Linked DNA regions of Homo sapiens: region 2 is linked to region 1. The links come from fine-mapping of genetic effects on gene expression. A gene starts in region 1. The other region holds a variant in brackets. All regions are shown on one strand. Distances are between the middles of the regions.

Region 1 (5,388 bases):
GAGGGTGTGCAGCTCTGCCACAGAAGCCACAGTCTCAGGTGTCTGGCAGGTGCTCAGGAAGGCTTCTGCATTTCTGCCTCTCAGGCCCTGGTCTGCTCATGAGACTTGCTTCCAGCTCACAGCAAGTGCTGAGATTTACTTTCCCAGCTCTCAGGACCTCTAAGTCCATGACTAGTTAACTCTCTTTCTATCTCTCTGAAAACAGGGGACATCTGAAAGCCCCCACATTCTCTGCAGTATTGGCAGTGCAGAAGGCCCTCCCCTCATCTCCCAGACTCCACTGGACATGGAGTTTGCCCCTTTGGTCACTTCCTCGGAAACTGCAGTTCACAACCCTATAGCTGAAGCTCTGGAAGCTCTTTTATTTTTAGCTTTTATTTTAAGTTCAAGGGTACAACTGCATGTCTGTTACATAGATAAACTTGTGTCATGGGGGTTTGCTGTACAGATTATTTCATCACCCAGGTATTAAGCCTAGTATCCATTAGTTATTTTTCCTGATCCTCTCTCTCCTCCCACCCTCCACCCTCTGAAAGGCCTCAGTGTGCATTGTTCTGTTCTACGTGTCCATGTGTTCTCATCATTTAGAGGCCATCCCCCTTAGCAGACTAACACAGGGACAGAAACCAAATACTGCATGTTCTCATGTATAACTGAAGCTCTGTCTTAGGAGGTAGTTTTCCTTCCTGACATCCACCTCAGAGATTCACAGCTCTATTATCATTTACCAAAAAGTTTTCTAGACCTTATGTCACATGAGCCTCATAGAAACCCATGTGATTGTACATGAGGCAAGGAAACCAGTCCCACCAGGTCCTGAAATCCAGTCAAACAGAGTGCCTCACCTCAGATCACATAAGTGCAGAGGCAATTCTAGAAACCAAAACTCTGTGTTTCCCTCCCAATCCAAGATAGATCCCTTCTTTCTCTCCTCCCTTCATGCAATACAGCTTCTTTAATAAATTCTGGGTGAGAGGAGAAACAGACAAACAAAAGGTGAATATCATTTCCATTCTCAAAAACGTTAGGAGAAAAGAGGAAAAGGAGTTGTATATTTCCTCTAATTTGCAGTGAGGGAAAAATTATTTGCAAAAAGTCAGTTTGGATTATTAAGCATGCAGTTGTGGAATATATACACATACACACAATATGTCATTATTTACCACCATTACTTTTGTAAAAGAAAATATAGAAAAGCACTGTATTGTAAAAATACAAAGACAACAATAGAAAATCAATTCCTCATATTCAGAATAAGGGAAAATATATTTTTAAGACAACCTCTTGTGGAAAAGTTCTGGGACAGTTTTCTCCAAGTGGCTTCTACCCTAAAGTCCCTCTAGCAAAATTTTAGGGTCTCCACACTCACGACAGATGTCCAGTCCCAAGACATATATCATCTCTTGGCACTTCCCCCAACCCCTCTCCAACACGTTCTGAATTAGATTTACCCCAATAACTTTGATTTCTGCGTGTAGATGTTTCTTCAGGCTATCCTGCCCCTGGTTGGTGGGTTCGGGTTTCTCTGCTTGGGAGAAGTTGATGACATTTGATGGGAGCACTATGATGGTCTCATTGGGAACAGGTTGTGATGTCATGATGGTGTTGCCAACTATGTAAGAAAAAATAGATTTAGCTCTTAAAAAGTACAGAGCTCCCAGGTTCTGACTCCAAAAACAGTAACTCAGTCTTTGCCAATTAGTCTAGGCTTGGCCTGTCCATTAGAGAAAGAAACTGATAGTATGGAACAGTGAAAACCACACAATCTTGGTTTCATGAGGATTTTTCCATAATGTTTGACACAGTCCATTATAGATAATAAACACATCACAGGGTGGCAGCAACATGAATCTTGAGAGGTCTCAATGTCCAGAGGCAAATGGTCACACAAAATTTGCAATATGCAACAACCTCCCTTTCCTCTAGTCCTACTGACAACAACTGTATTGCCATATATTTGATGAATTTTCAGACTAATAAATGAACTCTGCTTACTTATTTCTTGTTTAATAATACTATTTATTAGCACTCAGATATGTTTATCATATTTTACCAGACACATTCTTAATTTTTACCCTGCAGTGCTTTTAATCCTTACAACAGCTCTGCATGTTAGTAAGTTAGTAAAAACATGTAATAAATAAGAAAATGCAAAATAAAGTTTAAGTTATGAATGCAAATAATATACCTATTGCATATATGTGTGGCCCAGAGTTAATGCTGAAGAAATATTTGCAGTTACCCTTATTGTTCACCCTGGTTCACACAGCCGGGAAGCTGTAAAACCAGTCTTGGATCTCAGCTTTCCTGGAGTCTGAAGCCTTTGCATAAATCTCTAGATCATTCTACCTCTTCCTAATTTCCCACCTGGCATTGCCAGCCTGTGTCTGAGTTTACTCAGGCTGGAGAAACAGCTGCATGCAGTGGTATGAGAACAAGTCTTGGACTCATAACACATAGGCTCGCGTCGTTGGTCCTCCCCACTTTTTAGCATAAAGACCAAGTAGGTTGTGGTATTTGTTGCTAAGCTCAGCTTGGATCCCTTTTCACGGCACCATTCTCAAAGCACAGACCGCCCAGTTTACAAATGGTCTAAACACATTTGAAGAGACAAGAGCTCTGCTCCCATTAATTACACAACCTTAGGTAAGTGACTCACTGAGTTTATGCAATTAGAATACAGCGGACACAGAGTTAAAAACAGATACTCCTTCCATTTGCCCACTCTATTTCCAAAAGGCCCTAGTGTCTCTTAACTGCTGTCAAGGAGTTTCAAGTTAAATTACTCCTCTAATGAGGTCACGGCAAGGGAATAGTGAGATGAGAAAAGTCTTCCAGCATTACCTACCTGTGCCCGTTGGTTCCAGCTGAGTCCTCAGAAGCTCCAAAGAGGTTTTAACTCTGGTTTCTCAGTCCCATCAACGGTTTCTACTTACCTTCATCTTCTGAAAGTCATCAGCCCTTCCTTATTCCAGTGTTTACAGCTATACAGGATGTGATACTCACAGATTGTAGATTTGTGAAATGTTCCTGCACTTCCTTTTCTGTAAACTTCTAGCAACTTCAGTAAAACCATGAAAAGAGCCAACTAATATTTGTGAGAGTTCAGGAGTCATGGAGCCTTATGTGTGAATTGCCACTTCGAGACATACAAGTTTCCTGTTGTTAGGCAAGTCTGTTCTTGAAGCTTCAGTTTTCTAATCTGTTAAATAGAGGAGCAATACCAACACTGGAGAATTGTCATAAAGATGAGCAAAAATATTTATAAAAAGCCTATGCTGCTTTGAAGCTTTCAATAACATGTAACTAATAACAGTAATAGTGCTAGTAATCATAATATAGAGAAAGAACAATATTCCACTGTCTATAACTAACCATAATAATAATAATAGCAATAATGACTACACTGCTTTAAAGGAACATTCATTAATATATAGCTAATAGTAATATAGAACATAAAAAAACTTTTAAAAAATTGTTTTTTATATATATAGTTTGTTTGTTTGTTTTGTTTTATCTTGCTTTTCTAATTCCCCAAGTCTTGGCAGGCTGAAAGCAACCTTTCAATACTGATTGCCCAACTGCTGCCTACCCTCAAGTCATCTTCCTCCTCTGGCTGCTCTTTTTCTCTAACAACAGATCTTTGCCCTCCAGAAAGGTTGGGCCCCTCCAGGGAAGCATTGAAATATTGAAACAGAGAAGGAACAAATGGGAAAGATTCAGCAGGACCTAAATGAATTCAGTAAACTCATATGCAGGCTGGTTTTGTGAGGACAGAGGCACTGTGCCCCTTCAAAACCTTGGGTGGCATTCTTTGGAAGCTGACTTCAATGTATCAGGCAAGGAAACCAGAGCCAGTCAGGGCAATGGCAAAGCCCCACCCTGCAAGCTTCCTTCCTCCTTTCCTTGGGGGAGCTTCCAGAATGAACCCAGAAACACAACCTGAACCATCACCGTCACCACAGAGGGCCATGGATTCTGCACTTAATTCCACACATTAACTCTCCTGTTGAAGAAAGGAGTTAAGAAGCACCATTTAGAAGGCTGGATTAGTTCTCAGCGTCTGAATGACACAGACATTATGAAATGTAATTGGCTTGTCTTAAGTTCTAACAATAAATCTGAGAGGAGGAATGGACTCACACAGAAAGCCTGGGGAGAGGGGCAGAATCACCTCCAACCTTGCTCACCCAAGCTCCTGGCGCCCCTTCCTCTTTCGCAGAGTGCCGTCTGTGTTTCCAGTGGGTGCCCTGCATCTTTGTCACCCTCACAGCATCTGTGAAACAGTGGAATGCAGCTCTCCTCCTGAGCTTTGATTAAAAAGGAGCCCAGTCTCTTTGGTCTCTTCAGGAGCAATCACACCCCCTTTCCCTTCAGGGGAATGTGCTAATAAACCAGTTAAAGTTGCCTACCTAAGCAAAGGCTCCCTCTCCAGTCAGTTTTCCTCTCTGTGCTATTTAATTTAAAATCATTTCTGAGTTTTAAGGATTATGTGAGACAACACGTGTAAGGTTCCTAGCACAGAACCCTTCGGAATGATGGCCTAAAAGCGGTCTGTTGACTGTCTTCCTCACCCCCCAATCCTCCCCCCTCTTTTTTTTTCCATTTTGGCTTTAGTAAGCTTAAAACAATTCTCCTTTCTCTTGTCTTTCAGCTTACACTCATTCAGCCTTTTACATTCCCAGTTTTTTCCAGAGTCTGAATTCTACCAACCTAACTACAAGGGAGAAGACTGGTATATCAATAACACGTTCTGATTAATGATCTGGGACAGGTTTCTCAAAAAAGCTACTAATGCCACTTTGGACTGGGTAATTCTTTACAGTAGGTGGCTATCCTGTGCACTGTAGGATGCTTAGCAGACTCCCTGGCCTATGCCAGCACAATCCCACCCTATGTGTAACAACCAGAAACAGTATCTGATATTGTCAAATGTCTCCTGATGGAGGGAGAACAAAATCCCCTCACATTCATGTTGAGAGCTACTGACCTAGGAGCAAAAGGGTTTTTGTGTGTTCTGTGTAAAGGCAGGTGTGCTAGAAACAGAACAATATTTTCTTTAAATCAATTTCTCAACTTTTATTTTTAAAATTTTAAATTGTGGTACAAAACACATATAATTCATTATTTTAACCACTTTTTAGTGTACAGACCACTAGTATTAATTTTGTTCACATTGTTGTGTAACAGACCTCTAGAACTTTTTCATCTTGCAGAACTGAAACTCTATACCCATTGAACAACCACCCCTTTCCTTCCTATTCCTAGCCCCTAGTAACCACCATCCTACTTTCTGTTCCATGTTTGCTCTGTCTCTAAGGGAGGAGACCACCCCTCATATTGTCTTATGCACAGTTTCTGCCCCCAAAGAAAGAAGAAGTAAAAACT
Region 2 (5,388 bases), 93 kb after region 1:
TGGTGCATTTATCCCATTCATATTCAAGGTTAATATTGATATGTGCAGGTTTGATCTTGACATCATGTTGTCAGTTGGTTATTATGCAGACTTGAATTTTTGTCCCGAAATTTGGACAGGAAGGCCCAAACAGAGCTTCCCAGCTTACCAGGAGCAGAAGCACAATAGGAACACATCAATTATAACCGATGAACTGCTGGATGTTCAATGTGGACTAACTTGGGAGCTGAAACTCCATGAGGCCCAGTCCTGGGGAGAGGTCAAACACTTGCATGGCTTTTACCTCAAAGTGTCCTAGCAGGTATTTAGTGTAAAGAACAGAGAAAAATCTTGTGCTTCTGATTAAGGAAGGTAATATAACCATTTTTTAAATACTCCAGGGCATTCTGTTGTCTTTAACAAAAAAAGTCTTCCCTCAAGGGAAACTATTTTTTCAGATTCTGATTGATTCTGATTGATTTGGATAATACCAAAACCTAACCAGTCTTGGAAAAGGTCAATACACAACTCCACCTTCCTCTATCCTTCCACGTGGGGAAACTGAATATTCAGCTACATCTCTCTCTCGTATCCTGCCTGACTTAAGTTCAGGTAGGGGCTAAGAAGCATTTGTGAAGTTGATAACTGAGAAGCACAAGTTGCTAAAAGGCTGAGACCTAATTATGATACTAGAGGATGTTTCCCCTCACTCTACACTACCATCAGATGAATCAGGATCCTGTATGATAACAGGAGATTATAGTGAATGAACTGTAAACCTCAGACCCTATTTAAGAAGTGGTGTCTAGGGAGATCCAATAATAATAGGGGAGACCAAAACAAGGACATTACAGGACATTTCAGCCTTTGACCCAAATAGCTACAACAAACAATAAATGCAGCCTAACTTCTAGCCAGATAAACATAATACCTTACATAAAAGGCCTATTTACTTTACTTCCTTTTATGTCCAGCTATCAAAAAAAAAATTACAATGTATGTTAAAAGGTAAAAGACAAAGTGTGAAGAAACAAAGCAAGCAACAGAACAAGATTCAAATGCGGCAGAGATTTTGGAATTATCGGATCAGAAATGTAAAATAACTATGATTAATATTATAAGGACTTTAACAGGAAAAGCATACAACATACATGAATAAACAGATATGATAAGCAGAGAGAAGAAATTTCTAGGAAAGAATGAAAAGGTAATGCTAGAAATGTAAAATACAGTAATAAAAATTTTAAAAATGTTTTTGATAATTTCATCAGTATACTAGGCATGTCAGAGGAAAGAGTCAGTGAGCTTGAAGATACGTCAATAAAAACTTCCGAAACTGAAGAGCAAAGGGAAAAAAAATGGAAAAAAAAAGAACAGAACAACCCCAAAGTGCAGGACAACTACAAAAAGAATAACATTACACATAATGGAAATACCATAAAAAGAAACAAGAAAGAAAGGAAGAGAAGAAATATTTGAAGTTTAAATAATGACTGAGATTTTTCCAAAATTAGTAACAGATGCCAAATCACAAATCCAGGAAGCTCAGAAAATACCATGCATAGTAAAGAGTAAAACATCTATACATAGGTATATAATATTCAAAAACAGAAAATCAAAGACAGAGAAAATTTTGAAAGAAGCAATAAAGGAGAAAAGGAAACTTAACTAGAGAGGAACAAGGATAAGTATTACATTAGTCTTCTTTTCAGAAACTATGCAAACAAGAAGGGGGTGAAATGAAGTATTTAAAATGTTGGAGGTTAAAGGTTCAGGCACCAGTCACACTTCCTTGTTACAGTAGACACTGGTTGAGATGTTAGGTCTTTCAGCCCTGGAGTTCTGCCTATGTGTGTTGCTATGTTGTACACAGGTCAACTCAAACTCTTCCATTTTAAGAGTGCCAGCATGTTCCATAGAGCTCAGTATATCTCAAGGCCTGGGATTTGTGAATTAATATCCTCATATTGGAAGAAAAATACTCATGAAATGTGGTGGTGATGAGATACACATGGTAGGCAGTATTTATGGCAAGGGTGGTGCTTAAAAAAGCTGGTTCATATTGGCAATGAGATAATCAGATGGGAAGAACGAACCAGGTGTAGAATCACTGGAGATCAGGCCGGCTGGTCCTTAGAACGTACCTATTCTAACTCTGAGGATGAAGAAACAAATATTACTCTACATCGCATTGAGTTTAGTTTCTGAGTTGAGATTAAAACTTGGATCATCTCACTCCCAGCGATGTACCTTACTGTCTTCAGCCACTTTCTTTCTCAGACATTCTTCACAGTAAATATTTCTTGCACATGTGAGGAGACTTCATGTATTCTCTGTGTCCTGGTTTTCCCTTAGTATCATTGATCATCCGTGCTCCCTCTTAGCTCTTAATCTTATGGTTTTAATACTTTTTTCCTAGAAACCATAACAAGAGCCATAATCTTGTTGAATCAAAGTCCGTTGGCCTATCAAAATGTTTATAACATAGTTTTAATTCATCCACTGTTTCATTAAAGCAAATTATAATGAGTGACTGCTGGAGAATAGTATTTGCTTGGATTTCTGAATATAGTACAGGTAGCCTGGAATAGCTAAGGAATCTGTGTTCATAATTCAAAGGAGAGACTGTAAAAAATATATCAAAACACTAAAGCTGGTTTTGAATA[A/G]CTACTGGCATTTTTTTAGCTTTTTGTGGAATTTATTTTAACTGCCTCAAATTCACAAGATAAAATCCGGTGTATTAGAAACATGACTTTAGGACACTTGATGAAATGAAAATGTTGGGAAATTACTTGCCAGAGATAGTTGGTGATTATTATCCTCTGTGAAACTCAATGTTCAAGGGAAGTGAGATTAGACATCTCTATAATTGTGGGCCTTTAGAAGGCATGTGATGAAATAAAAAAAAGAAAGCTTTTGTTTCCTTTGATAACTTATATATTTGTTCAATTTGACTGACTTGATTGGCTGTAAGTCATTTTCTAAGAGTTTCAGATTAAAACTTAATTTCATTAGTTGGCAAAAATGGTTGCAGAGCAGTAAATTGGTCAGAGCTAAGAGATCTTGTAATGATAAAGAAGAGAAGAATGTGATTTGTATACACTACTTTGGTGTCAGCATAGACGAGTTGGGCTATTGTCATTAAACAGACCCTGTCCTTAGGGGACACTGGCATTTATTTTGCATATTAATATACATAGGCACCAGTATCTGAGGTTAAGTGTTAAGAATTTTAAGAGTGTTTTCTTAAGAATAATACCTTTCTTTGCTACATATGTACTATTTGAAGAACCATTTCTTAAGCACAAAGGAAACCCATATGGGAAAAAAAAACATTTTGTGCTTTTAATTTAGAATTATATAGGCACTGGAAAAATATTTTTATTAAAAGGATACAAAATAATATTTTTTCTAGATTCAAAATGAGGAATTACAGTGCTTAGATCTATCACCTCAACTTTACATGACTCCTACTTCCTAATATATTTGTTTTCACATTTTCCCTCTGTTCTAATCTTTTATTCCAGATATCTCTAAGGCTTTTACCAATCTCTTTAGCTGAGATTGTAATATAATTTTCTCTGATACTGTATCTCAGTTCACTGCTGACTGATGTGCCACCTACATCCATTCTCTGCATTGTTTCTATTTTACCCACCCAATAGCATTCAACAGAAATGTTCCTACCTGGTGTCAGACATTGAGAAATGTTGAAATCAAAAAGATAAATAAGATACATTATCTGTCCTCAGAGATACAATGAACTGGTAAGAAAAACACTTATAAAAATATAATTTTCAAATAATGGCTAATCTTGGTGGATTAAACACATCTATTTCCTCATGAAACCCAACTAAATGACTATAAAGGGTCTGGGAGAAAGTCATAAATCCAAAAATTCAAAAATAATATGAGAGAAATTGGATCATTTTTTTAAATGTTAGAAACCAGCTAGACAAGCAATAAATGACTTAGCAGCCTCCGGAAAGTGAAAACCTGACTGACGGAATTGGAAGCTTAGAAAAAATTTGATTCTCTTTGTAGAACCCCAGTAAGTCTCAAGAATTATAAGTGCTTTCAGTTGAATATGTCTGGGGACACAGCTAATTGTCTGAGAAGGTAGTTGTATTAGTATGTTCTCACATTGCTAAAAAAGACATAACCAAGACTGGGTAATTTACAAAGAAAAAGAGGTTTAATGGACTCACAGTTCCACATGGTTGGGGAGGCCTCAGAATCATGGTGGAAGGCAAAATGCACATCTTACATGGCGGCAGACAAGAGAGATTGAGAGCCAAGCAAAAGGGAAAACCACTTATAAAATCATCAGATCTGGTGAGACTTATTCATTACCACGAGAAAAGTATGGGGGAACACGCCCCCATGATTCAATTATCTCCCAGTGGTTCCCTCCCACAACATGTGGGAATGATGGTAGCTACAATTCAAGATGAAATTTGGTGGGGACACTGCCAAACCATATCAATAGTGAATACTTAAGTAAGTGAATTCCCTGAGAATAGTGAATTAAGATCCCTGAAGGCCTAGAGTATAACCAGTCCTAACTGGAATAGGAGAATATAAGGCGCCAGGAAGGGAGAGTGTATACAGAAAAATACTAATGAAACAGATCAATTACCTGTGGGTCTATAGACACTGAGATTTACATTTATGGTGGAGTATTTAAAACAACTTATTTTCAGGTATGTAGAAAACAGCATATGAAACATGAGGCAGTTACTAACTTCAGAGAGAAAAATGGTCAAAAGGAAGCGTAATCATAACACTCATAATGAATTAGCCATTAATGATTTAAATACTATAAATTGAGTTAACTAAAAAATCGTGATAAAACTATATGGGAGAATGAGGGAAAAGGAAGTGTTATGGTGGGAAGGTGTGTCCAGGGTAAAAATGAAGGATATAGGGGTTAGTCTATTGTCTTCAGTAGTAGGAGGTTAGTGCATAATATATAAAACCAAAAATTAGAACAGTATTTAAAATCATTCACTTAGAAATATGGAGTCAACACAAAAAGAAACAATTAAAATTTAAATACTTGCTTCTGGAGAAAGAAAATTGATTGGGAACTGGGGAAGGGGGCACTAATGATTTCTTTCAGGCTAAATCCAGTGAACATTTTACTGTTGTTAGCTTGTCTCTCTGAAGTATTTAATAATAATTGAATGATTTCTTCCTACTGAAATATTTCTGTGCTCAAAAAATGATAAGTAATTTATTTATATTACCTAATATAACCCTTTCAACAACGCTATGACATATTACTATCTATATTTTACAGATGAGTAAACTGAGGTGCAGAAAGCCTAAGCAACTTGCTCCAGCTCACATAGGGCATAGGATTCAAAATCCAGCTCAAGGCCGGGTGCAGTGGCTCACGCCTGTAAT

What was found. PIP is the estimated chance that this variant, and not a neighbour inherited with it, causes the effect.
Region 2: its variant is fine-mapped to the expression of MS4A6A in whole blood (TOPMed, PIP above 0.99).

The regions. Positions count from the first base shown.
Region 1 is chr11:60,180,130-60,185,517 of GRCh38, forward strand. MS4A6A (membrane spanning 4-domains A6A) reads right to left here and starts at 2,954. Exons shown (of 6, transcript NM_022349.4): 1 at 2,849-2,954; 2 at 1,452-1,612. The coding sequence starts at 1,598. RefSeq lists an enhancer at 5,181-5,340.
Region 2 is chr11:60,272,855-60,278,242 of GRCh38, forward strand. No RefSeq gene overlaps it. Among named protein-coding and RNA genes, the nearest start is that of MS4A4A, 5.1 kb to the right of the region's middle. The variant A/G (reference allele first, on the strand shown) is at 2,646.